5 linked regions of the Homo sapiens genome follow. The protein of the gene in region 3 purifies or fractionates together with the protein of the main gene of each other region. This does not show direct contact. Each region holds a gene or a part of one and is shown on either strand. Other genes may lie near its edges.

Region 1 (6,469 bases), on a different chromosome or scaffold from region 3:
GCTAATATTTTTTAAGTAGAGTCAAGGTCTCGCTTTGTTGCCCAGGCTCCCTGAGATCTTTACAAAGTAGATTCCTTCACATCCTCAGGTCTCATCTATCACTTCTTCAAAAAGGGTTTTCCTAAATAACCCACCTCAAGTTGCTCCCTCTTTTAGCAAATCAGTTTAATTGTCTTCATAGAGCATACGTGAAGGCTGGGCGCACTGGCTCATGCCTGTAATCCTAGCACTTTGGGAGGCCAAGGTGGAAGGATCACTTGAGCTCAGGAGTTCAAGACCAGCCTAGGCAACATAGTGAGACCTTGTCTCTATTAAAAAAAAAAAAAAAAAAAGGAACAGACACAAAATGCAAAATGTACTTTTTAAAAATATCTCCCCAAGTAGAATATAAGCTCCATGAAAGCAAGACCACTGTCACCACTATACCCCCCAAGTAGCACAGTGGCTAGCATACAGTGGGCACTCAATGAATAACTAATGAATGAAGGAATTAGTATTTTTCAGACATAAAGATGAAAGGACATGACCATGAGTACCAAAAGCCACCCTATCCATGGGAGAAACATGGTTGACCCCCTCCCCAACTCACTTTTTTTTTGAGATGGAGTCTCCCTCTGTCACCCAGGCTGGAGTGCAGTGGCACGATCTCGGCTCACTGCAACCTCCGCCTCCCGGGTTCACGCCATTCTCCTGCCTCAGCCTCCCGAGTAGCTGGGACTACAGGCACCCGCCACCACGCCCAGCTAATTTTTGTATTTTTAGTAGAGATGGGGTTTCACCGTATTAGCCAGGATGGTCTCGATCTCCTGACCTCATGATCTGCCCGCCTCGGCCTCCCAAAGTGCTGGGATTACATGTGTGCTGGGATTACATGTGTGAGCCACTGTGCACGGCCAATGCCCAGCTAATTTTTGTATTTGTAGTAGAGACGGGGTTTCACCATGTTGGCCATGGTCTCAAACTCCTGACCTCAAGTGATCCACCCGCCTCGGCTTCCCAAAGTGCTGGGATTACAAGCATGAGCCACTGCGTCTGGCCCTCAACTCACTTTAGCTGTAGCTCCTTGTCTCCAGCCCTGGCCGCATCCATCTTGACCCGAACCCAGAAAGTGACTGGCTCAGCCATGTGTTCAGGGCTACAGGGTTGCAGGGCTGCCAGCCACAAAATCACCATCTTGCAGCCCTGGGCCTGTTTACCCAGTTTCTTCAAACTCTCTACTTGTAGCCGGAAGCACCTGTGCAACTGACCAGAGAAAGGGAACAGACCAAACTGGAGAGGAACCAGTGAGTGTGTATGGTGGAAGGGGATATGCATGCAATAGGTACATACACCACATGAGGGGGCGGGGTTGGCAGGTGGGCCTCCTGAGCCACACCCACCCAAGGCAGGAGACACCTAAGAATGAAATACTCTGAGTGCCTTCAACTCAGAGGCTGCAATCCACTCCACCCCTATGTTCATCATCCACACCCTTGAAAACCTGCTTCTCCTGTAATCCTTCTCAGCAAATGGCACTGCCTTCTCCTGAGTAAGAAATGTGGGGCCATCTCTGATGTTCCCTTCTCTCGCTCTCCCTCCCGCCAGTCACCTACCAGGTTAATCCTTGGCTTCTCGCACCGATCCACTGCATTCCATCCCTCGTGCAGCTGCTTCAGTTCAGCCCACCCTTCCCTGCCTAGAATACTATAGCAGCCTGATTACCCGGTCTTTTCTCCTGCACTCCATTCATCACAGCGAAGTCAGGGAAATCCAAAATGCCTGTCTGCTGTCATGCCTCCACTTAAATCCTTTAGAGGCTTATCATCTCAGTTAAGATGAAACCCAAGCCCCTCTATGACTCATCTTGCTTGCCAATCCCGCCAATGCATCAGTTCACAGGTATTCTTGCTTAAGAACACTGGTTCTTGCCCAGCGCGGTGGCTTGCGCCGGTAATCCCAGCACTTTGGGAGGCCGAGGCGGGTGGATCATGAGGTCAGGAGTTCAAGACCAGCCCGGCCAAGATGATGAAACCCCCGTCTCTACTAAAAATACAAAAATTAGCCAGGCATGGTGGCGCATGCCTATAATCCCAGCTACTCAGGAGGCTGAGGCAGAGAATTGCTTGAACCCAGGAGGTGGAGGTTGCAGTGAGCCGAGATCGTGCCACTGCACTCCAGCCTGGGTGACAAAGCAAGAGCAAGACTCAGTCTCCAAAAAAAAAAAAAAAAAAAAAAAAAAAAAACCAAAAAACCAAGAACCCAGGTTCTCACTCTCCTTGCTCAAAGGACCACCTGGGGGATCTTTGAAAATATTCAGATGTGAGATGGAGTCTTGCTCTGTAGCCCAGGCTGGAGTACAGTAGCACAATCTCGGCTCACTGCAAACTCCACCTCCTGGGTTCAGGCAATTCTCCTGCCTCAGCCTCCAAAGTAGCTGGGATTACAGGCACATGCCACCACGCCTGGCTAATGTTTGTATTTTCAGTAGAGACGGGGTTTCACCATGTTGGACAGGCTGGTCTCAAACTCCAGACCTCAGGTGATCCACCTGCCTCAGCCTCCCAAAGTGCTGGAATTATAGGCGTGAGCCATCACGCCCGGCAAACACTAGAGATTCTGATGCAATTAACTCGGGGCAGACATTAGAATTTTCTTAAAGGTCACTCAGGTGATTCTAATGTGCAGCTTGGCTGGAAACCAGTAGCTTAGGACCAGGCTAAATATAAAAAGTGAGTCAGGCCGGCTGCGGTGGCTCACACCTGTAATCCCAGCACTTTGGGAGGCTGAGGCAGGCGGATCACCTGAGGTCTGGAGTTTGAGACCAGCCTGGCCAACCAAAATGGTGAAACCCCGTCTCTACAAAAAATACAAAAATTAGCTGGGCGTGGTGGTGGGCACCTGTAATCCCAGCTACTTGGGAGGCTGAGGCAGGAGAATTGCTTGAACCTTTGCTGAGGCAAAGGTTGCAGTGAGCCAAGATTGTGCCACTGCACTCCAGCCTGGGCGACAGAGCGAGACTCGTCTCAAAAAAAAAAAAAAAAAAAAATGAGTCAACAGTAAGTAACAGTACAGTGAGGTTTGGGAAACACTGCTCCAGATACTGGTGTCAACATGCTGCTATTAACCTCCCACTCCAAGGCAGGGTGCTGGTGAGGCCCTTCCCCGCTCCCCCCGCTCCCCAACCACATAAGCTCCTTTCCTGCATCTCTCATTCCCTTGTACCTTCTCAGGAGGCACCTCGGGATAAGTGCCTGGCTTCACCAAACCCAGGTGCTGACAGAGCGGCTCAGAGATGGCACAGGCCTCGGCATAGAGCTTGTGACTATAGAAGCTGTAGGCCAAATTACTGGTGTAAGAAGCTGCAGGGGAGAAAAGGCACAATTGACCATAGGAAAGGCTCCCACCACCCTCTCCTCCTGGAGAGGCAGCAGAGATCAGCTGGATCTGTGGTCAGTTCAGCAGCTTCCAGATCAGACAGGAACCCCTACTGCTAGGAATGGGGAAGGGGCGGCTCTCCCCTTCCTGCCCCAAATAGGCCCATGCCCTTCACACCACTCAGCCCATCTGCACTCATTTTACAAACGAGACCCCCTCCTGCCTCAGCACTGGCTGTTTCTTCTGCCAGGGATGTTCTTTTCCAGGAACCCACATGGCTGACTCCCTCACATCCTCCAAGCCTTTGCTCATGTCACCCTCTCAATGAGGTCTACCCTGACCACCTGATTTAAGGTGGTAACTTGCCCCCCGTCATGCACCTTAGACTCCCAATTCCCTTTCTTATCCTGCTCTACTTTTCCTTTCCCCCACATTTCTTATCACGTTCTAATATGTTGATAATTCACTTATTTACTGAATCTGTTTATCTTTTCCCCCCAAACTAGAACGTGGCTCCATGAGGGAAGGAAACTTTGTTTTGCTTACCGACACATCCAAGTACTCCAAATAGTGCGTTGCACACAGTGAGTACTCAACAAATTTTTTTTTTTTTTTTTTGAGACAGAGTCTTGCTCTGTCGCTCAGACTGGAGAGCAGTGGCACGATCTTGGCTCACTGCAAGCTCCACCTCCCGGGTTCACACCATTCTCCTGCCTCAGCCTCCTGAGTAGCTGGGAGTACAGGCGCCTGCCACCACGCCCGGCTAATTTTTTGTATTTTTAGTAGAGACGGGGTTTCACTGTTAGCCAGGATGGTCTCGATCTCCTGACCTCGTTATCCGCCCGCCTCGGCCTCCCAAAGTGCTGGGATTACAGGCGTGAGCCACTGCGCCCGGCAACAAATATTTGCTGAATAAATGATAATAACTTATTTATGCAGCTTCTTGGCCATCAACATAGATGACTGGGAGAAAATAAAGTCAGTCTTCAGTACTCTGTGGGAAGAATTCTCCTTTTTTTTTGAGATGGAGTTTCGCTCTTGTTGCCCAGGCTGGAGTGCCCTCTTGCCCAGGCTGGAGTGCAGTGGTGCAATCTTGGCTCACTGCAACCTCCACCTTGCAGGTTCAAGCGACTCTCCTGCCTCAGCCTACCAAGTAGCTGGGATTACAGGCATGCACCACCTTGCCTGGCTAGTTTTCTATTTTTAGTAGAGACAGGGTTTCAGGGAAGCCAAGGTGGGCAGATCACTCGAGTCCAGGAGTTCAAGACCAGCCTGGACAATATGGCCAGACATCATCTCTACAAAAAATACAAAAATTAGCCAGGCATAGTGGTGCGCGCCTGCAGTCCCAGCTACTTGGGAGGCTGAGGCAGGAGAGTCGCTTGAACCTGCAAGGTGAGCTCGTTGCGGGGCTGAGGTGGGAGGATCGCTTGAGCCTGGGAGGTTGAGACTGTGTTGAGCCGTGATTGTGCCAGTGCACTCCAGCCTAGGTGACAGAGCAAGACCTTGTCTCAAAAAAAAAAAAAAAAAAACACTTAAATATACAGAAAGGTCATTTGTAATGATTTCTGGATTCTGATAAGTGAAGAAAAGGAAAAAAAAACATTAAAAAATATAGAAATAAAAAAATATGTTGAAAGGTCATAAGGTTGCATATTAGGTGCAACTGTTAATGCCAAGTTAGATTCCAGTCGAGGAAATAGTGTCTGCTGTTGTAAGTTAGCTTCATCACTTCTCTACTGGTGTTAAACACAGAGTAGCTGGTACTTATAAACATTTCTCTCACTGCCTCCTTGAACCATAAGGAACCCTCACAGTGGTCAGAACCACGCAGCAAGTACTATTCACCTGCCTAATGGGTGATGACCCTCCCACAAACTCTGTGCCTGGGACCCAGGGCACTAACCGGTCATCCCCATGTGGTCCGTCAGCTCTTGGCCCGACAGGCCCTCTAAGGCCTCCAGCATCCAGACAACGGTAGATTTACAACTGTCCACTAGTTGGGTCAGGTCAGCCAAATCAACTATCTGAAGGGACAAGAAGGGTTTGAGAGTGAGGAGTCATGCTGGGTCCAAGATGACCTCCACCGCACTCCACACCCAAAGCCAAGCAACCCCAAAGCTGTTTGAGGGCAGTGGAGCAACCCCAAAGCTGTTTGAGGGCAGTGGAGCAACCCCAAACCCTATGAGCCTAGTCCAGGTACCTTGATTCCCAGACAGTACCTGACAGCCTTGGGCAAAGTCATAAACCACCACAGTGTAGAGGTGAAGTCCCTGAAAGTACATCTGAAGAAAAGACTGCTGTTGCTTGGAGGAGCCCCCATACACCTGAGGAAGGAAGCGGAAGGTTGGTATGAGGAGTAGAGATAAAGAGGGCTCCAAGCTGAAGACTGACCCGGAGTCCTGGAGAGCTGACAGAGCCCAGGGAGCACGAGGAAGGACATCCAGAAGGGCCACTGCCCTCTCAGGATAGACTAGGCTGTTTGCTGGCTCGCTAGGCACTGTCCAGAGAGCAGCTTAACAAGGAGGGAGCCAGGACCTCCAGATCTTGCCAAATACCCTAGGCTGGTAGTGAGTCCACAGACCACGTCCCCACCCTACCTCCAGGTCCTTAACTCACACCATCATCCCGCAGCTGCTGCAGAAGAGAGCAGTACCCTCCAAGAAAAGCAAAGAGGCTCAGAATGGCATCAAGTCTATAGCGCCTCTTGGTGCCTCGTTCCAGGCCTGAAAGGAAGAACTGGCAGCTCTCATACAATGCCCGAAGTGGGGGTGATGGTGCCTCCATACTCTTGCTCAGGACAGCTGATGCCTTGATCAGAAGCTTGGCCACTGCCTGAGGTCCTTCCTCCCCAACCTGCAGCAGCTTAACCCCCAGCTGACATAGCTGAAGGCTAGGGGCTAGATTGGTGTTCCTTAGGTAACTGTGAGCCTTCTCCACTGCGCTGATGGCTTTGTCATGGTGGCGGCTCCAGCAAAAGCGACGGCAGTGTTCCAAGGTGAGCTCCAAGAGGCAGAGGGCCCTCTGGGGAGAAAGAAGCCCAGAAGAGCTCCCTCTCTCACCCACCAAGGCTCTGATCACGTGCCTGGAGAGCAGGTCATCTAGGAAATCAGCA
Region 2 (6,469 bases), about 61 Mb from region 3:
CTTCTTCTTCTTCTTAAACTGATAAATACAAATTGTATATATTTATGGTGTACAACACATTTTGAAATACATATAAATTATGCAATGGTTAAATCTAGCTAATTAACACATGCATTACCTCACATAGTTATATTTTGTGGTGTGAACACTTAAAATGTACTCTCCTAGCAACTTTCAAGTATGCAATATTAACTATAGTTACTATGCCCCACAAATTATCTCTTAACATATAATGTCATCTTCCCGATGAGTGCCAGAATTCAACATTAAGCTTTTTTCTTTTATGAATTAAATATTATATTAGGAATTACTAATAGTAATTAAGTGCCATTTAATTTTAATATCCCTTTAAGATTTTTAACAAGGAAGTGTAAGGCATTTCAAAGTGTTCAAATATTAAAAAAAAGTTGTTTTCAGATAGCTATAAATTATACAATTTTTCATCTATATTTTACTTATATACAATTCTAAGTCAAATGTCCCACCAGCAAGGATAGATAGCATGATTAAACCTGTAGCAATCCAAATCCCATAAAGTATTAGTTCTGATTAAGCCTGATTTTTTTCATCTTAGTCACTCAGTAAAGGGCAGCATCCATTTTGGTCAACATCATTGTACCAATGTCCAGCAGCCAAGACAAAGAGCCTTTATATGGTGGTATGAATAGACAATGAGAGCAATACGACACCACTTGAAATAAGGGGGGGGAGAAAAATGTTTTTATAATGCTAAGTTTTAAAACTAGGAGATGAAACTTACAAATTGTGTAACAACTAGGTAAAAGGATATATATGTAAGAAGAACAGGAAGGTAGAACAGAAAGGTCTCCTCTCTAGACCTTCTCAAGATATACCTAGGTTCAAACTTGGCTACTCCATTATTAAGTGGATGTGTTTCCTCACATGTAAAGTGGGAATATATACATCACAGGATTATTAAAAGAATATAGTAGATGCTTAATTAACGTCATCTGTCTTTAATACTAATAATTATATAATGGTAATAAGATTATGGGTGACTTCCCCTCCCTCACTTTCCAAATTGCTGTATTTTTCAAGCATAAATGAAAAACTTACAATTTCATACTAGTACCCCTCCTCAAATGAACCTAAAATTATTTTTACTAGCTGTCTTTGACAAATTTGCTTATAAGCTTAAAATCCGTGTTTGTGCTAGGAGGAGGTTGGTGGTAGAAAGAAAATTAAAGAGGGGGAACTGATAACTTTAACACCATACCAGCACAGACATATACAAAACAAAGTGTGGAGAGGAAAAGAGCAAAAGGAAATGCTGTTTGGGAAATTCCCAACTCAGACTATCCAATGAAAAGATTATATTCCACCCGCCTCAATCTAGCTACCTACCAGCCACTCCTCACTCTCATCTTGGGTTTATACGTACATTACAAATACGCATAGCCACTCACCTTCTTCTCTCTACTAATAGTCACCACATGGCCTCACAGTCAAAAATTGAAAGGAGAGTGAAGAAATTCAGCATGTTATAACAAAGACAAACCAATGCACTGGCTGGGAAATAACTTCATTAAAATGTACTCATTCCCAAGTGTATCTACTCATCTGCTGACAGTGCTGGGAATGCATTCCTGAAATATTTAACCTGGTTATAAGATTCTGCTGCTAGAATCAGAGAAGGCACACTTTGATGCCTACCTCTCACTTCCTCTATAACAACCTTGTCTTTATCGGCATGGCTTAAAATGGGACATTAGCAAAAGTATACAACTGCAAATCACTCACAGGTGAAAATCTCAAGTTAATGTAGAAAGAATAATTAAACAATGGTAATAATAACTATTATTACTCTAACAGGTAACACTTACTTTACTCAGCATTGTATGCCAGAAAGCTAAGGACTTTACATGAATTATGTAATATCAACCCTAAACCTCTTTGAAGATGGTAATTACTAATTCCACTTGCCTAGTGCTCACACAGCTAAATCTGAACCCTGTCAATTTTACTTCAAGGCTTACACTTTCAAACTTTATCATATCCTGCCTCTTTATATATGCATAATTACAATTGCAATTGTGATTCTATGTGTGTGTGTGTCTGTGTGTAAAGTATTTAGTGAGTCAGTAGCAAACAAAAGGCAATTAATTCCAACTCTGTGAAGCCTTTTACCCACCTTCACAAACCAACAATAAATTGGGAATTACCCCTCTCCTCCCCAATAAATGGTGCTCTGAAAGTACTAGTTTTACAGTCATACATCACTTAAGCATGGATGTACATTCTGAGAGATGCATTCTTAGGCAATTTGGTCACTGTGCAAACATCACAAAGTGTACTCAAACAAACCTAGATGGTAGAGCCTACTTACACACCTAGGCTACTTGGTATAGCCTATTGTTCCTAGGCTACAACATGCTCCTGTAAAGCATGTTATTGTACTGAATACCACACACAACTGTAACATAACTGTTTAGTATTTGTGTATCTAAACATAGAACATAAAATACAGTAAAAATACAGTATTACAATCTTATGGGACCACCATCGTAAATGCAGTCCACTATTGACCAAAGAACATCATTATGCTGCACATGACTGTATTTAATATCTTCCTCAAGAAACTAATGAAAGAGATACTTTTAAGTAAAATATTAATCTTTTCAAAAAATTAGATAAAATAATTGATAGACTACAGGTAAACATGCTTTGTAAAGTGTAAAGAATTTTAATCAACACTTTATTAGGTATTTTTAATTTTCAGTTGTCTATTTGGCTCAAAATATACTTACGTTTCTAGAGTTTGAACAAAGTCTTTTTTATTTGAGACAGGGTCTCACTCTGTCACCCAGGCTAGAGTGCAGTGGCACGGCATCTCTGCTCACTGAAGCCTCTGCCTCCTGGGTTCAAGTGATTCTCCTGCCTCGGCCTCCCAAGTAGCTGGGACTACAGGCACGTGCCACCATGCCCAGCTAATTTTTGTATTTTTGGTAGAGACAGGGTTTCATCATGTTGACCAGGCTGGTCTCAAACTCCTGACCTCAAGTGATCCACCCACCTTGGCCTCCCAAAGTGCTGGGATTACAGGTGTGAGCCTCCACACCCGGCCTATATAAAGTATTTTAAAAGCTGTATTTTCAACTTAAAAAAAAGATACACATACCAAAAGGCTTAACACATAAAATCTGCCTTCATCACTCTAACCCAGCTTCAATTCTACCAAAATCTAGGCTAACAGAATTAAGCTTCAAGGAACAAATCATTTATCTTTATTTTTACTTACAAAATCTCAGTTCAAAGGATTCCAAATGAAATGGGAAGACCACAGCTAGCAGACAGAAGAGGTAGGGCCAAGATTAGTAGGAGAGGGGAAAGAAAATCTCCCAGAAACGCTAATCTTAATCCAGTCTCACTTTCTCCCAACCAAGAGAAGTGTGCACTGCTGCTACTTCTGCCCTGGCAGGCTCCTCCTCCTCTTACTCTTGAAATCCTCTGCTTTTTTCCTCCTGGAAAGTTACTCTCACAGGGCTGTTTTTCTTCCTAACATCTCTCAATTGTCAAAGGATTTCTTATCTTGAAATTAAAAGAATAAAAATATACTAACTTTCCATAATCACATAAGAGTTCCCAGGAAGTTCAAAAAGGATAGTAACTACTGCCAGGTGCGGTGGCTCACGCCTGTAATCCCAGCACTTTGGGAGGCCAAGGCGGGTGAATCACCTGAGGTCAGGAGTTCGAGACCAGCCTGGCCAACATGATGAAACCCCATCTCTACTAAAAATACAAACATTAGCCAGGTGTGGTGGCCGGCGCCCGTAATCCCAGCTACTTGAGAGGCTGAGACAGGAGAATCACTTGAACCTGAGAGGCAGAGGTTGCAGTGAGCCAAGATTGCACCACTGCACCCGCGCCTGGGAAACAGACCGAGACTCCGTCCCCCAACCAAAAAGAAAGAAAAAGAAAGGATAGTAACTCCATGGTTCAACTTGGCAGATCTGCAAAAAAAATTATAATGCAGCAACTAAGGCCTTAGAGACAAGAAAACACCTTTTTCATGGGAACTTCCTCTCCCTGAAGAAAGACAGAATTTAATTTAGAGTCTTACTACCCTCTGGGTCTCCTGTGATCTTCATGTTTGTTTCTTAAGGGGAAGAGGAGAAATCTTTTAGCCAACCAGCAGGGTGAGCTAGTGCTAGCATCAGTTCCATGATTCTCAAATCTCCCAAAACTCAATGGTGTAAACGGCTTGCACTATTAACAGCAGCTATTTATTTCCCTCTAATAAACCTGAATCAAAAACACCACTTCTAGAACTGCTTCAGTCAATGCTATACCTGACAACTTTACTCAATATTTACAGATTCTCCATATACGAAATAGACATTCTCTCTACCAGAAAGATTAATAAGTGTAAATAAAAGCTCATTTGAATATGTATCCATAGTATTACAGTATCCACTCTTCATTCTCGTTTTATTTTACAAGGTTACTAATTTAAAACATTTAGAAAACAGTTTAAAAAATGGTTAAAACAAGTGCTCTATAAAATCAGGGTTAGATAACTCAACATGCCAATTTCTCCATTTGCTGCAAGCTACAATTGTCTTAAGACCTGACTGAAAAGCCTTCCCAAGAATAAGATTCACTTTTCCTTCCAGAATCACATCCTGAGAAAATGGTCTAAATAAGTAACACTAAAAAACAATATTTAGGATGACAGAAAAAAAATGGACCTGACCTTTCTCTAGATTGCAGATATCCCACCACTTCTATTCTCTTTGAAACTTTCTTTTCTCCTCCTGCTACCCATTAACAGTCTCAATTCAACCAAAACACTCTTATAACTTGAATGACAAACTAAAACTGGAAAATGTTTAAGGTTGGCAGGTGACAGACCACTTTATAACTACAAATAACCTGAAAGTGACTCTAATTTTCACAAAATGAAAGTGTAAGTAAATCCACTCACATAATGTTGAAAATTATAAAACAGCTTATCAACTAACAAAAATCAGTAATTTAAAAGCACCTTATATGACCCATAAAAACTTTTAAAACCTTAAAACAATTTAACTTTTTGCTAAATCTGACATTCAAAGAAGTTAAAAATCACTATAGGGTTCCACCATAAATGACTGTCACTACTTGTTCAATTTCCTAACAGACCTTAGAGGTACCACTCAGTAGAAGTAGTAGTCTTAAAAAGTTGTTTTAAAGAAAGGGAACATTCTGAGTGGCACATTCGTTTATCCAACCAAAACACTATTACAAAATGAAAGACACCATTATTTTCAGCATTGATCTCATTTCTTTTCCTACATAATAACTGGCAATAACAGCAGTTATTTCAAACTTTCAAAGAAATTTATCAAGTCCCTGGTTGTTGTTTTTTAATTTTTCAATTTCTGGGTCAAGACTGCATTTGGAAAACCTTAAAATTCAAAAGCAACATTGCTCTGAAACTATCTGATATTTCTGTATTTTGTACCTGATTTTGTTTCACTGAAAGTCACTTTAAAAACCAAGTTAACCACAGAATATGAAAGTTTTTTTGTTTTTTTGTTTTGAGATGTAGTCTTGCTGTGTCACCAGACTGGAGTGCAGTGCCACGATCTCAGCTCTCTGCAACCTCTGCCTTCCGGGTTCAAGTGATTCTCCTGCCTCAGCCTCCCGAGTAGGTGGGACTATAGGCACCACCACGCCCAGGAAATTTTTACATTTTTAGTAGAGACGGGGTTTCACCATGTTAGCCAGGATGGTCTCGATCTCTTGACCTCGTGATCTGCTCGCCTCAGCCTCCCAAAGTGCTGGGATTACAGGCGTGAGCCACCGTGCCAGGCCAATATGAAAGTTTTTAACTTATTGTCACAGAAGTTCTCATGAACCTAACAATATTTAATTAACAAGTATTCTCAATAACATTCCCTTGTTTTTTTAACCATTAGTTGTAGATATTCACCTTCTCATCCCAGCAATATGACAAATACAAACAGCAATGGGTAGAGGCTGAAAGGCAATTTTCCATTATGCCACTAACTTAATCATCTCTGGTCCTCAATATATTGTAAAAGAGGAGGGTAAGAGCAGTTGTTCTTTGATATTGCTTCCACTGTAAAACTTTATGATCCAGGAATACATTTGCTAATGTTAATGCATCTCCTATTCATTAATACAAGACTGTTCTGTATTAGAAGCTAAAAAAAGAGAAAATATATATCTGAAAAGAACAAGGAAATGAAAGTTAACTAATGTTGAAAAATTCAAATTTCAGTTTGAACACAGAGATCTACACAGTGATCTAATGTGTTTAAATATCCCTCCAACCAAGGAATTCTGTTAATTGCCAACACAAAACATTAGGTGTTTCAAAATTTTGTACTTCATGAGTTAATACCAACACAAAGTATGATATAATTGCAGTATAACTTTAATTTGTTAGAAATTGTAAGACTTTTAAAAGCAATACATACCACTGCATTAATACTAATCAAGC
Region 3 (6,469 bases):
GAGAGGCATGGGAGCACATTATTACTGAAAAGACTACTACTGCCTACCTTCCAATTTCAAGAGCTTCAGCAATTTCAAAATTTATTTCATATAAAAAGGGCTCAGGGTATTTTTTAAAAGTTAGCTAAGGTACACATAGAATTAAATAGAAGCATACTTCACTTTCCCCACCCAAGTCAGTTTTAAAAGACAAAAAAAATTAAATGAATCAAATATTTGAAATATATATACTTAGATTTCATATTAAATTATTTAAAATTACTTATCTAAGTCCTTTTATGCCTCCAGGGCTTTCCAGAAGCTGCTGCCTCTGCAAGAAATGCCATTCCAGGCTTAGTAAAGGCCTTACTATTTATCTTTGTTGGAAGTACAGTCTTCATTTACTGTCTCTACTTTTGGTTTCTATTTATTTACTCCTTAACGAACAGTGAAATGGGGTTCTTCCCTGCTCCATCGCCAAAACTGTAACTTCCCAGATAATCAACCTACAGGTCATGCATGGAGCCTTATCTCACCCATCTCTCTGCGGTAGCAGGAAGGTGGCCACTCCCTCCACAAAACTCTTTCCTTGGTTTCTGTGCCCTCTTTCTCTTGGTTTCCTCTTATTTCCCTGGAGGGTCCTTCCAAGTTTGGGCTTCTCATCCTGTGCCATCAATTGTTAATGTCACTCTGCTCTCTTTAGACCATTTCATCCACATATGTGGGTTCAATTACTACCTATATGCTAATGACATCAACAATGCTGCATCTGGCCTGATTCAGAAGCTCAAATCTTATTTAGACCACAGCAGTGGACTTCTTACAGGCTTTTGTGCTGAGTTTCTCTTTGACACTGTATCTTCATTTTGCTGCCAAGCAAATTTTAACATGTTCCTCATTATATTTCCTTATTCCACATAGTTTCTCAGCCTCCCTCTCCACTCAAACGTCTCGTGCTGCCTCCTCCAACCTCTCTCAACTGAGGTCCTTGCTATTTCACTAAAAAAGGAGAGCATTCAGAGAAAATATCCACAAGCTTCTACACATTTGCCCACCTTCCTCCACCTGTGCCTAAATGCTTGCTGTTCTCTCCTGTGACCACAGATGAACTGTCTCTGCTCCTAGCACTGAAGTCTTTCATAAAAGCACTGCTCCACAAGTTCTCCTTGCTTCTACTACATGATTAACGTTTTCTTTCCTCTCTACTGGATAGTCCCATCAGCAGACAAACATTCTCTGTTCTTAAAGAAAACCCTTCCTGGATTTCACTTCAACTACTTCCCATTTCTTTTCTTCCTTTTAAAGGAAAACTCGAGTGTCAATATATCTGTCCTCAAGTTCTCTTCTTAAATCCACTCTAACTGCTCACATCAGAGTCACCAATGATTTCATACTGCTCAATCCAAAGATCGATTCTCAGTTTTCATCTTACCAGATGTCCCCACAGTATTTGGCACAGCTGATGATTCCCTCTTCTCTGAAACACATTCTCCATAGCACACCCTCCTGGTTTTCCTCTTTCCTTTCTGGCTATTCCATCAGTCTCCCAGTTGCTGGTTTCTTCACATTTTTCTAACCTCTAAACACTGGAGTGCCTCAGGGATCTGTCCTTCGCCCTCTTCTCTGTTCTACCTCACTTTCTTGGTGATCTCAAGTCTCATTCACGGACTGGCTTTAACTCCTATCTAGATGCTGATAACTTCCAAATTAATAGATCCATTTAGGACCTTTCTCAACTGCCTACATGGATCTCCATTTGATGTCTAATAGACATCTCAAACTTAACACTGAGCTCCTGATTCACCCCCTTCCCATAATCTTTGCCATCTCAGCAAATGGCAATTCGTTTTTTTTTTTTTTTTTGAGACAAGGTCTTTCTCTGTTGCCAGGCTGGAGTGCAGTGGCGCAACCATGGCTCACTGCAGCCACAACCTCTGGACTCAAGCAATCCTCCCATCTCTCAGCCTCCCAGTAGCTGAGACTACAGGTGCATGCCACCATGCCCGGCTAATTTTTGTATTTTTTGTAGAGAAAGGGTTTCACCATGTTGCCCAGGCTGGTCTCAAACTCCTGGGCTCAAGTGATCCACCAACCTCAGCCTTCCAAAGTGCTGAGATTACAGGTGTGAACCACTGTGCTCTGCCTCGACTGCATTCTCTTACTCCCTTAGTCATCCTCTCTCTCACACTGCACACCTAGCCTGTCAACAAATCTTATTTGCTCTACCTTCAAATCATCCAGAATCTGACCACTTTTTCTCTTTGCAGTTCTATGACCCTGCTCTAAAACACCATTATCTTTTCCCTAGATTACTGCATTGCTTAATTACGTTCCTGCCTTTGCCATTGTCCATTCAGTTTATTCTCAACACAAGAGCTGGAGTAAGTACTATGTGCTAGATGCTACTGTGGCACTAAAGACACAAAAATGAAGAGATAATGTGTTGAGTAGCTACTATGCCAGGCAAATTACATAATTTTATTTTACAGTCATATAACCCTGTAAGGCAGGAAATATTAATCCCATAGAAGAGTACCCATGCTTGAAGAGGTTATCTAATCTCTAACCCAGAGTCTGGGTTATTCTTGCTTGTAAAAAACCTTGTAAAGTGATTTTAGAAATCCTTCCCCACTCTTCCTTTTACCTAAGCTCTTAGGGTAACAGCACCTGTATTTTTATTCTTTATTTTGATCAACATATTCAATTCAAAATTAATACTGGTAGAAAGTACTGTAGGTGGTTAAAAAAACACTGAAGACTAAAAAACTAAAGATAGGTGATAAAAAACTGAAAACTAAATATCTGTATTTCCAGATATTACAATCTAGTAGAACAAAGCAAGCTGGCTTTAAATAAGATTTGCTTAAAAATGAGTAAATGTAACTTATGCCATAATTTACCTCCAGGTACAAAAATTCAACCCAAATAATTATAATAAACAAAAATGTATTTCACCCTGGGGGGAAAAACTGGCTATATCCTGGTAAGGCTAAAAACATACTCATTAATACAAAACCTACTGTGGAATAAAACTTAGGCTTTCAGGGAAAGCACAGTCAATCTGGAAGAGTAAAGAGAGAAAGGAGAACATCTAGCACCGAAATCTCACTGAGGAGCAGATATAGTCAGGTAAGGGAGGCTGGAGGTAGATTTCTTACAACAGTCATCCTCTCTTATCCTCGAGGAATATGTTCCAAGAACCCCAGTGGATGCCTTGGAGTACTGAAAACTATAGGTTTTTTCAATCTGATAACCAAGATGGCTACTAAGTGACTAAGAGGCGGGTAGCATATACAGCATGGATATGCTGGACAAAGGCAGGATTCTCGTCTGGGCCAGGATGGAGATTTCACCATGCTAGTCAGAATGGTGCACAATTTAAAACTTAAGAATTGTTTACGTATGGAACTTCCCATTTAATCTTTTTGGACCAGGATTGACTATGGGTAAGTGAAAGCAAAACCACGGAGAAGGGTAGACTACTACACTGTCATACAGATGACCAGAATTTGCATCTGGCCTCACAGCTTTACTGATCAACAGAACTGAATAAAGTTCTTCAGAGAACTACCAGAAGTTTGCCAAATCTATTTTTTCTATATCCTGGTTTTAAACAAATTTAATCCACCTTCTTGCCCGGACTCAAAAGCCTGAGCAAATAATAAAACGGCCTTTTACTACCCGAGGTGGGGGATGGGTACCTCTTTTCAAGGGTGTCGTCTATTTTGGGTCATTAGTTACTCAGTGAATTCAGTATATCATTTTTAGAGACTATCAATCTGAGGGAATACTGTTCTCTCCCGACCTTTTTAGAATGTAGGACAGAAAGGGTTGAGGTTAATGTAGGCTGTTTGTTTTCATTTATGAGGTTCTTTTCCCAAGTCATTGGATAAGCTTCTCTTTTTTTAAATACACTGCAAATAAAAGCTTTCACCATCCTGAAAGTTTGGATGGTATTATATAAGCATCGTTGTATATACCAAAGGAAAGGAAACAAGTTGTTTCATAAAGGAGATTTTTGACTTAAATAATTCTTGAATACACACCTCCCAAACTGCTACTTTCCTACATTGAGATGGTTTATTCTTGGTGTCTAGAAAGAATTTGACTTCTTTTGTCCCCTGATTACTTTAGATATATATATTTTTTGAGACGGAGTCTCACTCTGTTGCCCAGGCTGGAGTGCAGTGGCACGATCTCAGCTCACTGCAACCTCTGCCTCCCGGGTTCAAGCGATTCTTCTGCCTCAGCCTAATGAGTAGCTGGGACGACAGGCACCTGCCACCATGCCCAGCTAATTTATGTATTTTTAGTAGAGACAGGGTTTCACCATATTGGCCAGGATGGTCTCGAACTGCTGACCTCATGATCCGCCCACCTCGGCCTCCCAAAGTGCTGGGATTACAGGCGTGAGCCACTGCGCCTGGCTTAGGTATTTTCTTATATGACCACTAAAGTGCAAAGCTTGTTTCCATTATTAATGCATCTTGGTTAAATAGTGCTAGCTCTTTCTTGTGTGCTGAGCACGTTGGGGACAGAAGGAGGAAGAAGAATTTCTACTTGGAAATATTCATAGTCTAGGAAACATAAACACCAAAACAGGCTGGGCACAGTGGCTCATGCCTGTTAATCCCAGCACTTTGAGAGGCTAAGGTAGGAGGACTGCTTGAGACCAAGTATTCAAGACTAGCCTGGGCAACATAGTGAGACTCTGTTTCTACAAAAAAAAAAAAAAAAAAAAAAAAAAAAAAATTAGCTAGGCGTGGTGTTGCACACCTGTAGTTCCAGCTACTCAGGAGGCCGAGGTGGGAGATGGCTTGAGCCCAGGAGGTGGAAGCTGCAGTAAACTGATGACACCACTGCACTCCACCCTGGGCAACAGAGCGAGAATTTGTCTCAAGGGGTTTAAAAAAAAAAAGTATAGGGCAAGATGTGTGTAGGTTATATACAAATAATATGCATCTTATACAAGGGACATGAGCATCTATGGATTTGGGTTCTGCAGGGTTCCTGGAACCAATCCCCTGCAAATAACGAAGGGAGGGACAACTGTATAAATTCTTGGTCAATGCGACAGTTGAAAGTAGCTAGAACCTTAAGGTTTATTTCTTAGATGGTGTATAGTTGAAAATCATCTCATTAAAATACAACTCACTTTTCTTCCGCAAACCTATACTACATGAATGAACTGCACTAAATGGACATTTATTCAAGCCAATAAATATCGAATTCTGATGTGTGCTTGACCCTCGGGACACAACAGTCAAGATAGATTTGGCAGCTGCCTTCATGGAGTTTCCTGTCTGGCAAGGAAGATCTTGACAGGCAGGAGTCTTTAGGTCTTAAGGGCTTTGGGAAACTGAAATCTAGCCCTGTGAACAAGAATAAACTGGATCTGTATTTTCATGCTGTCTGCTTTTAAAAACTGGCCATAATTGATGCTTATGGGGCATAGAAATCACAAGATTTTATAACTAGAAGGGACTACAGAACTTATTTGATTCCATTAATAACGTTGCAATTTGGGAAACTGCGGCTAAGGGATAGAAAAGGATTGATCTAAGATCACACAGCTCATTAGTCATTTCTACACAATACAGTGTGCAATAGAAATAAGTCTGTTTTGATGGCCAGTCATAATCACACCTCTTTACAGAGGCCCAAAGGACTAGCAGCACTTTTGTTTTCCAGTTCTGACACTATCAAGATCAAGTGCAGAGGGGTCTCTGCAGCCAAGGCCCCTCAATCTCGACCCCCTACACTGGGTTGAATTACATTGCTATGGGTTTCCACAGAATCCCCAATATCCCTTGATAACACATGCCATGCTTGTCATTCTTGATTAACATCTGTGTCCGTGGTGAGGAGAATGAATTGAAGGCAGCAACCGTGGCTGCAGGAGACCAATCAGGGCCTAGTCCAGGTGTCAATGATGGAGATGGAGAACAGATGAATTGGAGAGTTTGTTGTTGTTTATTTAGAGACAGAGCCTTGGTCTGTCACCCAGGATGGAATGCAGTGAATGATAATAGCTCACTGCAGCCTTGAACTCCCGCAGTCGTCCGGCGTAGCTGAGATTATAGGTGCGGTTTTGGCCGACTTCTATTTGAAGCAAAAGGTAAATTTCACTAACTCCTCTTCAAACATTACAAATGAATTTGTGCTAATTGAGTTATCAGCTGATGTCTCAAAAAATGAGACTCTACTTGATCTGTCACTATGGTTTTGTTCACAATTTTCATATCCTTTCAGCTATAAGTTTCTCTTAAAGAGAAATGGAAAATAATATAATGTAAACGGGGATAACTGCATAGTACTGACTGCTAGCTTGTGTTTGATTTTATTACTTAAAAATTGAATGGGAAGGAGGAAAATACTAGAACTTAAGACCACAGTTTCTAGGGGAAGCTAAGAAGAGAAGATGAGGATCATTGTTCAGTGAGGAATGTGGTTAGATAATGGTTTTCAGTGAAAGCTAACTTTGAAATTT
Region 4 (6,469 bases), on a different chromosome or scaffold from region 3:
AACTATGGGTAGGAAAAGAAAAATTTGACAAATGAGCAGGAGGCTTATGAGAAAATTAAAATATTTTCATCAATAAAAACAATCATTTAAATTGTTTATATGAGTGCTTTACAAGTATGGAATAAGTAAAAGGAATCTAAATGACATAAAATAATTGTAACTAGGAATTAAGGAGACACAATCCTTATGCATACATATTAGTTAAAATCATATGGATACATATTAGTTAAAAAGGTGACCCAAAGTTCAGCAGAGATACTACATTTGGCATAGCTCCCTACTTGCATGAGACCAACATTACGTGAAAGAGGACATCACTTCTCAAAATAATACATTAAGCTAGAACATTGCTCTTCCCAAATGACTCAGATTGAAAGATTTATTAAAAATCCCCACACACAAAATAATCTACATCAAATGGCTAACAAGCCAATGAGCCAAAGCAGAGAATCAGCAACACAACTTCCTTCCAAAGATGACAGGCCAATTCTAGGTCCATGTGGCTCTGCTGACAACCCAAGTGATATGCTGAGCAGAGCCACAGACATGATTAATTGTCCTAGAGCCTCTTGTTTTTCTCAAACTTCCTTATCTCCAAACTCCTAACTAGGCAGGATCTATCACAGAAACACAAAGAAGAAGAGTGAACACTTTTCCAAAGAAAACTATTAAATATAGAGAACAAGTAAACAGAGCATCAAATTGGGAGTTAAGAGACCTGGATCAGAGGCCAGGCATGGTGGCTCATTCCTGTAATCCCAGTGCTTTAGGACGCTGAGGTGGGAGAATCGCTTGAGCCAAGAGTTCAAGACCAGCCTGGGCAACATAGTGAGATTCTGTCTCTTAAAAAAAAAAAAATGATCTGCAACTAGAATAGTGCTTGGCACAGAGTAGGCATTTAGTGTTGTTTGTTTGTTTTTTGACTCTCACTCTGTTGCCCAGGCTGGAGTACAGTGGCACAATCTCGGCTCACTGCAACCTCCACCTCTCGGGTTCAAGAGATTCTCCTGCCTCAGCCTCCTGAGTAGCTGGGATTACAGGCACCCGCCACCACACCTGGCTAATTTTTTCTTTTTTTTATTTTTATTTTAGTAGAGACGAGGTTTCACCATGTTGGCCAGGCTGGTCTCGAACTCATGACCTCCGGTGATCCATCCACCTTGGCCTTCCCAAAGTGCTAGGATTACAGGCATGAGCCACCATGCCCAGCCATATAGTATTTCTTGAATAAACAAGTAATGTAGGGACAAGCAGTTTTCTTCAATGGATCAAGGTATCCACTGGCTCCGGAAAACAAAATGCAGGGAAAATCTGCTTTTCCAAAGAGATGCATTATTTCTCATATAATTGAGGCATATAGTAATAATAACTGCAAATGTTTTTGAGCACATACTTAGTGCTCTACATGTAAAACTCTGCTCTAGATGTTTTATGTATTAGTTAAGCCTAATGAAAATCCCTATACTATTTAAACCTCAACATAATATATAAAAAAGAATTATTACTCATACTGTACAGAAATGAAAAAGGAGGTTCAAAAAGATAATTTCTCTTGAAAGGCTAGGATTAGAAATCTTATCTGTCCAATTCCAAAGACTGTGTTCTTTCGACTGTGCCTTTCAATAGATGAAAGCATTAAAAAAAAGCGGGGGAGGAATAAGTACTTGGGCTACTCAAGAGAGCACTTCAGGCTATCTAGGAAATTCATTTGTTTAACAAAGATTTATTTACTGAGCACCCATCATATGCCAAGCACTATGACCAGCAATGGGTGACAGATACAAAAGTATTAGTAACAAACAAGGTAGAAGGATGGAGGGAAAAACTAACATTATCTGGCAAAGTCAAAGAAATCTTCTGAGAAAAAAAAAATAACACCTGGATGAGATTTTGAAAAGCAAAATTAAGGCCAGGCACAGTGGCTCATGCCTGTAATCCCAGCACTTTGGGAGGCTGAGGTGGGTGGAACACCGGAGGTCAGGAGTTCGAGACCAGCTTGGCCAACATGGTGAAACCCAATCTCCACTAAAAATACAAAAATTAGCTGGGTGTGGTGGCATATGCCTGTAATCCCAGCTACCCTGGAGGGTAAGGCACGAGAATCACTTGAACCCGGGAGGCGGAGGTTGCAGTGAGCAGAGATTGTGCCACTGCACTCCAGCCTGGATGATAGAGCAAGACTCTGTCACAAAAAAAAAAAAAAAAAAAAAAAAAAGAAAGAAAGAAAAGGAAGCAAAATAAGAGCTTACCAAGTAGACAGAGAGAGAAAGGGACATCCAGACAGAAGGATCAGAATGTATAAAGGCAAAGAGGTATGACACAGCATAGCATATTCTGGGAAATAAAAGCAGATCTTCATTACTGGAACTTAACTGAGAGGCAGTAGTGGAGAATTAAGAGTAGAGAGCCAATAAACCAAGCCTCAGCAGAGTAGGCACCAACTTTGACAAAGAGCATTGCTCAAACAGCCTTACCCAACAGACCATTTCTCCTGCCATCTCATTCTTTAGTCATCACTAGGGGAAATCCTCCGTAAAGGAAAGGCAGTCTTAGTAAAGAACCATTAAGGAACTGAGATCAACTCTTTACCTGAGAGATCAACTTCTTCCCAAGAAAGTTGCATGCATCTTGTGGCATTTCATGTGAAGCACTTATAAAAATAAGTGTTTTATCTGTAAGTTAATCTTCACAATTAAGTGTAAGGTATCAATACTGGCATTTTATTGATAAGGAAACTGAGGTTCATAAGAGTAACTTGTCCAAAGCTACATGAAGCCTTTTCCAACCCAAGATCAGAAGGCAGATCTGACTCCAAAAAAGATGTAAGAAATAAAGAATCCAAACTATGAAGTCTCCCCAAAAGACTTAACAAATAGAGAATTTTAAGAAATATTTAAAGCTTAGAACATATGGGGAGCTGCAAAGAAGTAGGGGAACTGAGATGAGAAAGAATATTTCATTACTCTTAATCTTCTCAACGGAAAACTGATATTATTCTCATCCTAGCAATTGAATTCCCAAAGCCATATATGGCAAAGGCATAGCAATCATAGTAATGGTTACTATGGATTACTATTACTGTATTACAGAGGAAGAAGTATTTGATACCTCCAGATAAGTAAAGTTTCATGCAGAAGTTCACATGTGAGTTGAGACCTAAAAGATAAAACACTACTGACAGACAAAGTTGAGGTACGGAGGACATTCCAGGCAAAAAGAACACTGAATGTGAAGGTAAGAAATGCTTATTGTATTTGCAAACTGAAAATAGTCCAGCTTATAAAAACACATGAAAGAGTCCCATATTTCCATATGGCTCCCTCTTACCTCCATCATGTCTCTGCTCAAGTCACTTTATCAGAGACTTTCCATGACCACCCTATACAAATAGTATCCTCCCAATCCTACTCTATATATTACCCTGCTTCAATTTTCTTCATAGCACTTATCACAAGGCATATACATTTGTTTATCCTTCCCCTCAAGTAGAATGCAAGCTCCTTGAGCATAGGGACTTCACATTGTCCTTCATCCTTCCCCTCAAGTAGAATGCAAGCTCCTTGAGAATAGGGACTTCACATTGTTCCCTATTATCCTCAATATTTATACTAGTACCTGGCACACAGTAGGCTCTCAGTAAATATTTGTTAAAAGTGAGAAAGTGAGGCTTGTGAAAGAAGTGCTTTGTATACCATAGTAAGGAGCCTGAGCTTAATTCAATGTCTGATAAACCACCCTTGAAGGAGGTTAACAAATAATCATTAAACCCCTTTAATGAATGATCAGACATGAATTCTGAAAGATCACTCTGATTGCAGCATGGAAGATGGACTAAAGAACACAGCAGGCCGGGTGCAGTGGCTCACACCTACGATCCCAGCACTTTGGAAGGCCAAGTTAGGAGGATCGCTTGAGGCTAGGAGTACAAAACCAGCCTGGTCAACATAGCAAGATCCCGTCTCTACAAAAGAAAAATTTAAAAGTTAGCCAAGTATGGTGGCATGCATATGTGGTCCCAGCTGAGGCAAGAGGATCACTTGAGCCCAGGAGTTCAAAGCTCCAGTGAGCCATGATTGTGCCACTGCACTCTTGCCTGGGTGACAGAGCAAGACCCTGTCTCAAAACAAAAACAAAAACAAAAACAAATGAAAAAAGAGCAAGGCAGAAAAATTGTTTCAAGAACATGGTATGGTGGAAGACGGAATGAAGAACAAAATAGAGGCTGAAGGAAGAACAATTATAAAGCCACTAAAATAATTCAAGTAATACGTGAGAAAGGTCTGAATTGAGGTAGTTTTACATTATGTAACTTTTAGTGAAAAAGCTGTGATTAAAGAAAGGGAAAACAATATGTTAAGAAGAAACTTTTAGGCCAGGCATGGTGGCTCACGCCTGTAATCCCAGCACTTTGGGAGGCCGAGGCAGGTGGATCACTTGAGGTCAGGAGTTCGAGACCAGCCTGGCCAACACAGCAAAACCCCATCTCTACTAAAAATACAAAAATTAGCTGGGCGTGGTGGCGGGCGCCTGTAATCCTAGCTACTCGGGAGGCTGAGGCAGAAGAATTGCTTGAACCAGGGAGGTGGAGGTTGCAGTGAACCAAGATCGCGCCACTACACTCCAGCCTGGGCAACAGAGCGAGACTCCGTCTCAAAAAGATATATTAATTAATTAATAAAGAACAAGCTTTTTCCAAAGTTTACCTGGGAGTTGGAGTCTGGGAATCTTTCACTTTCAGTAAAATCACAGAGTCTGATCCTAAAGAAACACAAGAGCATTTCATTAGTAATAAAACTCCACAAAGTTATACTTTCTAGATATCTTAGTTTAAGTTCCCATACTTTGCTATATTTTATTTCCACAAAAATAACATAAGAACAAAGGTTAGATGGGAGAGAGAGAGAGGCAAGTCCATTGTCACTGAGAACAGAAATAGGTCTTAGTGAAGAATTTGCTTCACAAATAAGAAAATCCCTGGGAAATAACAAACATATTTGCCCTTCAGAATTTCCTCCTAGGCTGCACTTGCTCCCTGTGCTTCCTGTCTGTTTCAGGAGAACAAGAACATGGCAGGATTCCTTAAAAGTCTTCATGGTAGTCCTCTATCTGCAATTTTGGTTTCTATGGTTTCAGTTACGCATAGTTAACTGCGGTCCAAATATATTAAATGGAAAATTCCAGAAATAATTAGTAAATTTTAAATTGCATGCCATTCCAAGTAATGTGATAAAAATCTCTATCCAGCTCTATTTCAGGCATGAAATCATCCCTTTGTCCAGCATATCCATGTTGTATGCACCACCTGTCATTTAGTAGTCACCTCAGTCATCCAATTGACTGTCTCAGTATAGCAGTGCTTGTGTTCAGTAACCCTTACTTAATAATGTCCCCAAAAGGCAAAAGTAATGATGTTGGCAATTCAGGTATGCCAAAGAGAAGCCGTAAAAAGTGCTTCCCCAGCCTGGCCAACATGGTGAAACCTGTCTCTGCTAAGAATACAAAAATTAGCTGGGCATAATGGCTCACACCTGTAATCCCAGCTACTCAGGAGGCTGAGGCAGCAGAATCGCTTGAACCCAGGACATGCGAGGTTGCAGTGAACCAAGATGGTCCCACTGTACTCCAGCCTGAGCAACAGAGTGACACTCAGTCTCAAAAACAAACAAAAACAAAAACAAAAACAAAAAACACTACTTCCTTTAAGTGAAAAGGTTAAAGTTTTTGATTTAATAAGAAAAAAGTAACATCTTCATTACAGTATATTGTTATAATTTTTGTTATTAGTTATTATTGTTGATCTCTTACTGCACCTAATTTATAATCATTAGTATGTATGTATAGGAAAAAACATGATGTATATAGGGTATGGTATATATAGTATACTCTCCATGGTTTCAAGCATCCACTGGTGGGGGGCGGGTCTTGGAACATATCCTCCCCCCACAGATAAGGGGGAACTACTGTAGTTCATGATCTACAATGCGACTGAATTAGGTGAAAGAAGGGGTGGGGGAATGGAAGAGGGAAAGAAACTGGAAGAAGGAGGGAAGGGGGACAGGGAAGGAAATAGCACCCCAGGAGGTGTCTAAAAAGTACAAATTTTATCATTCTATTATGTATTTTCTCTGTTGAATACTACTCAAAGGCAGGAATCATGTTCTTCTAAAGTGCTGTCATTAGAACCTCAGAGTATTTATTACATGGTACAAGGAAAGTAATTAAACAGTGCAATGTAGTATATTTGTTTCAACTTAGTTGTATCTAAGTATCTGCAACACAATGTATGTTTCTGAGGTTAAAGGAGTTTGGGTTTTTTGGCTTTTTTTTTTCCTTTACAGTTCTCAGTACATCACCTCACAAAATATAACAAGAGTCTTCATGGATATGTGTAGCTATACAATGATGCTACCAAAAAGTTTAATCCTGAGTGAGAATTTTCACAAAGTACAAATAGATTAAAAAAAAAACC
Region 5 (6,469 bases), about 69 Mb from region 3:
GTATTTGTCATTGTTACTTCCACTGCTCGGAAAGTTTAGCTCACCCCTGAGGCTTAATATGATGGCTAATCCTTCTTATCACCAAGCAATACCCAGCTATATATATATCACATACAGAGTTCAGGGTTTCTACTGGGTTCTGATGTAGTTTTCCCTTAAGACCACAAAGGTGTGTCCTTGAAAAGGGTGGAAATGTCTGGTGTCAATCCCATAGAAGAGCATGTGGGTGCCCTGGGAGAGAACTCAGGCCACAGCATGGTATGTCTCCGGGGCAGATTGCCTGTGTCCTCTTGGTCTGCACTTTGGGGCATGGGTCTTCTGAAAGTCTCAAATCTTTGAGAGCTCTGCTGAGTGATAGAGAAGTGGAAAATGGCTTTATCTTTCTCTTTATCTTCGCTTCCCTCAGTTATCTCTGAGCTATGATTACATATTCCAACCTCAGATTTGCTACAATTTCGAGTTTTGACTGTTTGCTTTGGGGCCCAAGCATTAACGGGTGAGAGCAACGCCCCCCGAGGCCAGCGTGTTGATGGCAGCAACAATGGGTGAACAACTCCGCAAGCAATGAGTGATGGCAGCAGCAATGAGTGAATGACTGGACCCTGGCGGATCTGAGTTGGCTCTGGCTAGAGCAGAGTTCCCTTAGCACCGCGAGCAGCACATCTGAGCATGATGCACAAAAGCAGTGGGTCGCTTACCTCCTCAAAAGCATCACAGCCGGTCACCACAATATTTGGCCTGAAATTCTCCATTTTCATTTTCTTCTCCATCCTGGTATTCAAATCTACCAGGGAGGCATCTGTCATGATCAGGAGCGGGCAGTAGTCTGGGTAGGCCACCTTGCCAAGAACACAGGATAGTCAGGCCCCACCACTCCACAAAATGGCCTAGACCAACTACAAAGCTAAGTAATGTCCAGAAGCAAAACCTCTTCAGTGCAGAAGAGGGGAGCAGTGTTCAGGAAGGAGAGAGATGTGAGTTTGGGCTTGCAGTGGCCAGGAGCTGGAGCAGTTCCTGCCCATACACAGGGACAGGGCTGCAGCCAGGGCCGGCTCTGGGCCAATGTCACTCACCAGGCTTCCTCTTCCTGGGTTCCCACTCCCACTCCAGCAGCGACCCCCTTCCCCCATCATCCTCAAACAGCGAGGACCTGCTGCCAATCAGCTATACTCCAGTAATAATTTCCTCAACAACACCATTCACTCACTAGGCATTTACTGAGCACCTACCAGGCACTGTTCTAGTGGGGAAACAGCAGTAAAGAAAGCAGATAAAAACCCCTGCCCTCAAGGAGCTTGTAGTTTAGGGGCTATGGAGAGAAATTCCCTGAGGTCCTTGTATTTTAAACCTTAGCTCATGGCAGAATCAGAGGCTTTGGTCTTTTGCACTGAGCCTAGTATAAACCATCGTACATGTCGGCACTCTGTATTATCTGATAATTTGAAAAATAGCTGCCAGGTGCTGTAGGTGCTCAGGGGACAGTTTTCCTTAGGGGGAGGCGCCTCGCCAGCACCTGAAATAAGCACATGTCACAGATTGTGAGGGGCGGGTCAGAACAAAGTCCGCTTCTATAATTCCAGGAAACTTGGATTTAGTCCCAAACAAACTTCTCACTTTTGTTTCTCCAGCCAGTTTTCTCTTGCATCTCCATCTACCTGGGAGTCACCCCTGGCTCCCCCCTCCACAATATCTCCCATATTCAATCCTCCATACACCCTAGAGATCCCACTTTTGAGACACCTCTCATATCCACCTTCTTTTCCATCCCCTGGTACCTCTGCCTAGGCTGTGCCCTCATTATCACTCACCAGGGCCATTATCATATTTTCTTAACTGAGGTCCCAAGAGAGGCTCTTTATCAACTGGGAAGGAAGCCAGAAAGAGAAGGGTGACTAGTAGCAGTGAAGGTAAACTCTCTGTAAGCTCACCTGGAAATTCTGATCAAGAGTGGGGAGAAGTTTTCTTGATGTTCTTCCCTTCATGTTTGTCTCAAATTGAACCAATCTATACGCTTCAGTTTTCAAGAAGTTGGTGAACCACTTAGCTGCCTCATTGCCACAGTCTCTGCCTTTAATGTCAAGGCCAAATATCCTGGAAAGGTCACAAAAGAACACCAGGTTACTTACTTATATCAATACACTGAGGGATGGTGTCAAAAATGAACAGCTGGACTGTTGGGACCTGACCATCCCAGAGGGCTGTTAAGTGGTCCCTGGGTCAAAGCTGGGCAGAAGTGCAAGAGAAAGGAGTAGAGTGTGCTCTGGGGAAGAGCTACCCAAACCCTAATGTATGTGCAAATCCTCCAGGATCTTGTTTGAATGCAGATTCTGGTTCAGTAGGTCTGGGTTAGAGTCTGAGATTCTGCATTCCCAACAAGCTTCTGTATGCCTAAGCTGCTGGTCCATGAACGTAAGGATTTAGGACACTTTCACAAGAGGAGAGGGGCTGCCCTGTGGCAGATGCACCCTGAGCTTAGAATCCAACAGACCTGGGTCAAATTGGAACTCGGCCATTCTCTAGTTCTGTGACCATAAGCAAATCATTTAACTCCTCTGACCTGTCTTCAGTTGTAAATTGGAAATAATTATATGGTACCTACCTACGTCACTTGGTGGGAACAGATAACTTTAGATAACACAGCGGCCCTCAAGGTTTTCTTGCTTAAATTCCCCTAATGGAGTTTTAAAAAGCTATGGACCCTTCACAGAACTATAAGTTGACAGGTAAACTTTTTCATCATAAGTTTAATTTGTTCTGAAAGACATCATTTCCATTGAATTCTAAACACTGACATTTAAAATAAAATGATTACATTATGCTTTTAAAAGTGTGTAACGGGATCTAAATGCCATGTTGGTTTGATATCCACCATTATCCATTTAAACATTTTTGTATTATTCCTCTTTTTATTCATGAACACATATGTATATTATTTTACTTATGTAATTTTATCCTAATGTATTTTTATGGCTATCGCTCACTTACTGTATTTCTTTTGAATCAATTAAATTTGTTTTGTTTCTTAAGCTTTCAAGTGTGAAGAAATGTTTTCAGGATTGAGTTATCATTACAATTATGATTTATATACAATTGATCATAACAAAATAGATATGCTATATATTTTTATAATTCATGAACTTAAAAAGTGAAATTTTATTTGAAATCAAATGCTTAATGAACCCCATAAAATATCCATAAAACTCTGAATGAATCTCACATATTGCTAGAATAAGACAAGGTTCAGTATCAATTTTCTTTCTTTTAAATAAGCCCTGAGGAATTTTTCACACAAACAAATAGATAGAAATGGGAGTTATAGTAATTTCACTTATTCCTTGAATCTCCAGGCAATATATTTCACATAGTGATTTGTCATCAAAAAGTATTTTTAATGATTTATCAGCAACAATTTCACTGGAGGCCCCTTCATTTTAATGTAAGACAAAGAGTTGGAACCACTGACTTGTACAACCATTTTACCCTGTCATTAACATCACCCTCTTTATCAACACCAGCATTTTTCATTGTTTGGGTCCCTGTATGTTTTTCCCTCCAAGGGCAATGCCCCTAGTAAGATGTGGGGTGGACAGACAAAAGCCTTTCCTCTGTACAAAGAAGAAATGTTTATGGTGAGACCGGAGAACTTGCTGATTGTAGATATAATTCACAGGATCTGGAAATTGATTCCCCTACCCTCATCTACCATGGGAAGGGCTTGCCCCTCCCCGTGGGAAGGCTCATACCAGTGTGAGGACTCCTGAGGCGATGCATGTGAAGGATTTCAATGTGGACACCTGAGGTGCTCCCAGTTAGATGAACCCCTGTGTACCCTGCAACTCACAATCCTGGTCTGAGGGTAGAGACTCCCAACCTCTCACCTCCTCTCCTATCTACTGTCAAATCTCAGTGCTGTTCCTTTCACATTTCTTGGGCCTTTTCCTTCCCTCTAAACCCCCTTCTCGAAGCCACTGTTTCACCTCTGATTAATTCTTGGCTCTACAGACATCTCATGATCCTCTCCTGGCCTTCTGCCTTTCCCCTAAAACTGATTCCATCCCACTGTTCAGCAGTTCCCTAAGTACATGCTCCTGGATGGAGCTCTTCCCTCATCCCCTCAGAACAGCACTTGTACATAAGTGCACACATATTACTCACAGTCTCCACCCACCCGGGAAAGCTTATGGGTGGCACTTTGAAAAGCAGAAAAGCCCCCAACAGGGCAATGGAATACTGATTAACCGGAGCCCCTTCCCCCCGATGGAAGGCATCCCTCCACCAGCCCTGTCTCCCATCCCTGCACTGGATGGTATCGCTCCCTCTGCCATGCCATCTTCTCCAATTCTTGCAGAATTTTCTGCAAAGTCCACTCTCTTCTACATTTTGACACAAAATGTCTCATCAGCAACATTCCATAGAAAAAACTGACCCTCACTCTGGGTTCAATAAAACTTCATTAGTAAGCAATCTCTTAACTCACTAATCAAAAGTAACTCACTAAAAATTATGTAAGAGGACATAAAAACTTGAATAGACTCTTACAAAGAAAATCCAGATACTTTTACTGGCAAGTTCTATCAATAATTAAAGAATAAATAATACCAATCTTACACAGCAAACAAAAAAAGTGTTTTTAAGACTTGCTATGTAAAAGTGGAAGAAAAGAGTAAATGTTTAGGACTAAATCTAACAAAACATGTAAAATCACATTACAGATAAAATTATAAAACTTTATTAAAGAGATAAGACACAAACAAGTGAAGAAAAATAATATTCATAGATAAGGTGGATTAATACAATAAAGATAATAGCTATTTAAGACCTAATATCCAGTTAAGTGCTTACTGTATACCAGGTCCTCTTGCAAGTGCTTTATTTAATACACACACACACACACCCAGACACACACACACACACACATATTTTCACATCAATTTTCTGTAAATTGAACCACAAATTCAATATAGGGTTGAAGTCATGTCTTACTTCCCCCTACTTTAAAACATTAGCTTCACCTTTTAAGACAATAATCAGGCCGTGCACGGTGGCTGATGCCTGTAATCCCAGCACTTTGGGAGGCCAAGGCAGGTGGATACTTTGAGGTCAGGAGTTCGAGAACAACCTGGCCAACATGGTGAAACCCCACCTCTACTAAAATACAAAAATTAGCCGGGTGTGGTGGTGCATGCCTGTAGTCCCAGCTACTCAGGAGGCTGAGGCAGGAGAATCACTTGAGCCTGGGAGATGGAGGTTGCAGTGAGCTGAGATCGTGCCATCGCACTCTAGCCCGGGCAACAAGAGCGAAACTCCATCTCAAAAAAAAAAAAAGGTAATAATTATTCATAAATACTTGTGATAATCAAGAAGCCATACTGGTCTATAATTAGTATAAAAAAACTTAACACCACACAAGGTGAACAGGGAAAGCTGATTCAAAACACTAACAGTGAAAGTTTAAAAAAAATAAGTGGCCGGGCGTGGTGGCTCATGCCTGTAATCCCTGCACTTTGGGAAGCCGAGGCGGGTGGATCACAAGGTCAGGAGATCGAGACCATGGTAGCCAACATGGTGAAATCCCGTCTCTGCTAAAAATACAAAAATTAGCTGGGCGTGGTGGCGTGCGCCTGTAGTCCCAGCTACTCAGGAGGCTGAGGCAGGAGAATCACTTGAACCCAGGAGGCAGAGGTTACAGCGAGTTGAGATCGCGCCACTGCACTCCAGCCCGGGTGACAGAGCGAGACTCCATCTCAAAAATAATAATAATAATAAAATAAAATAAGTGTAGAATAATATAAAATTCATAACACTTCAGCCTTGTCCAAATGTCTGTGAAGGGACTTTTCTTTTTACTAACTTGAGGTTGTTGGTTTATGTTATTTGATTCTGGGCTCTGGTGGGCTGGCTGTGGTAATCACTCTGTCGCTTACCATCTGTTAGGGGCTAAATGTTTGTGTCTCCCCAGAATTCCTTTGTTGACACCCTCACCCCCAATGTGGGGCCTATGGGAGGTAATTAGGGTTAGATGAGGTGGAGCCCTCATGCTGGGATTGGCACCCTTATAAGAGGAAGAAACACAAGATTGCTTTCTCTCTTCATGCAGGCACCAGGGAAGGTCATGTGAGGACATAACGAGAAGTGGCCATCTACAGCCCTGAAAAGGGACCTCACCAATCTACCAGCACCTCGATCTTAGACTTCCCATCCTCCCAAACTATGAGAAATAAATGTCAGTTGTTTAAGCCACCCAGACTATGGTATTTTGTCACAGCAGCTGGCACTAGCTAAACACACTATCTATGTTATTTCTTCAGTTTTTAGCAGTTCCCTTGGCAACGAATCCATTAAAAATAGCTTATAAATACAGGCTGAACTAGTTACAGCATGTCTAACCAGCTAGAGAGGGCAGTGCGCTGACTACACCTCTGCATCAATCCAAATGCACAGCTCTCAATCATTTTCACCAAACTGCCAG

Evidence for each region.
Region 1: the proteins of TDRKH (region 3) and ESPL1 purify together in Homo sapiens (affinity purification with mass spectrometry; one large-scale study listed by BioGRID and IntAct). This does not show direct contact.
Region 2: the proteins of TDRKH (region 3) and ZNF644 purify together in Homo sapiens (affinity purification with mass spectrometry; one large-scale study listed by BioGRID and IntAct). This does not show direct contact.
Region 4: the proteins of TDRKH (region 3) and SENP1 purify together in Homo sapiens (affinity purification with mass spectrometry; one large-scale study listed by BioGRID and IntAct). This does not show direct contact.
Region 5: the proteins of TDRKH (region 3) and MTARC2 purify together in Homo sapiens (affinity purification with mass spectrometry; one large-scale study listed by BioGRID and IntAct). This does not show direct contact.

What each region holds. Positions count from the first base shown.
Region 1 is NC_000012.12:53,269,590-53,276,058, reverse strand, and holds part of ESPL1 (separin), read right to left. Parts: coding exon 5,974-6,469; intron 5,682-5,973; coding exon 5,577-5,681; intron 5,382-5,576; coding exon 5,261-5,381; intron 3,339-5,260; coding exon 3,202-3,338; intron 1,243-3,201; coding exon 1,049-1,242; intron 1-1,048. UniProt on the Homo sapiens protein: Caspase-like protease, which plays a central role in the chromosome segregation by cleaving the SCC1/RAD21 subunit of the cohesin complex at the onset of anaphase. During most of the cell cycle, it is inactivated by different mechanisms.
Region 2 is NC_000001.11:91,014,048-91,020,516, forward strand, and holds part of ZNF644 (zinc finger protein 644), read right to left. Parts: exon of another isoform or gene 5,936-6,469; intron 1-5,935.
Region 3 is NC_000001.11:151,783,109-151,789,577, forward strand, and holds part of TDRKH (tudor and KH domain-containing protein), read right to left. Parts: intron 1-6,469. UniProt on the Homo sapiens protein: Participates in the primary piRNA biogenesis pathway and is required during spermatogenesis to repress transposable elements and prevent their mobilization, which is essential for the germline integrity.
Region 4 is NC_000012.12:48,066,964-48,073,432, forward strand, and holds part of SENP1 (sentrin-specific protease 1), read right to left. Parts: intron 4,759-6,469; coding exon 4,704-4,758; intron 3-4,703; coding exon 1-2. UniProt on the Homo sapiens protein: Protease that catalyzes two essential functions in the SUMO pathway.
Region 5 is NC_000001.11:220,757,280-220,763,748, reverse strand, and holds part of MTARC2 (mitochondrial amidoxime reducing component 2 isoform a precursor), read right to left. Parts: intron 2,092-6,469; coding exon 1,929-2,091; intron 840-1,928; coding exon 699-839; intron 1-698. UniProt on the Homo sapiens protein: Catalyzes the reduction of N-oxygenated molecules, acting as a counterpart of cytochrome P450 and flavin-containing monooxygenases in metabolic cycles.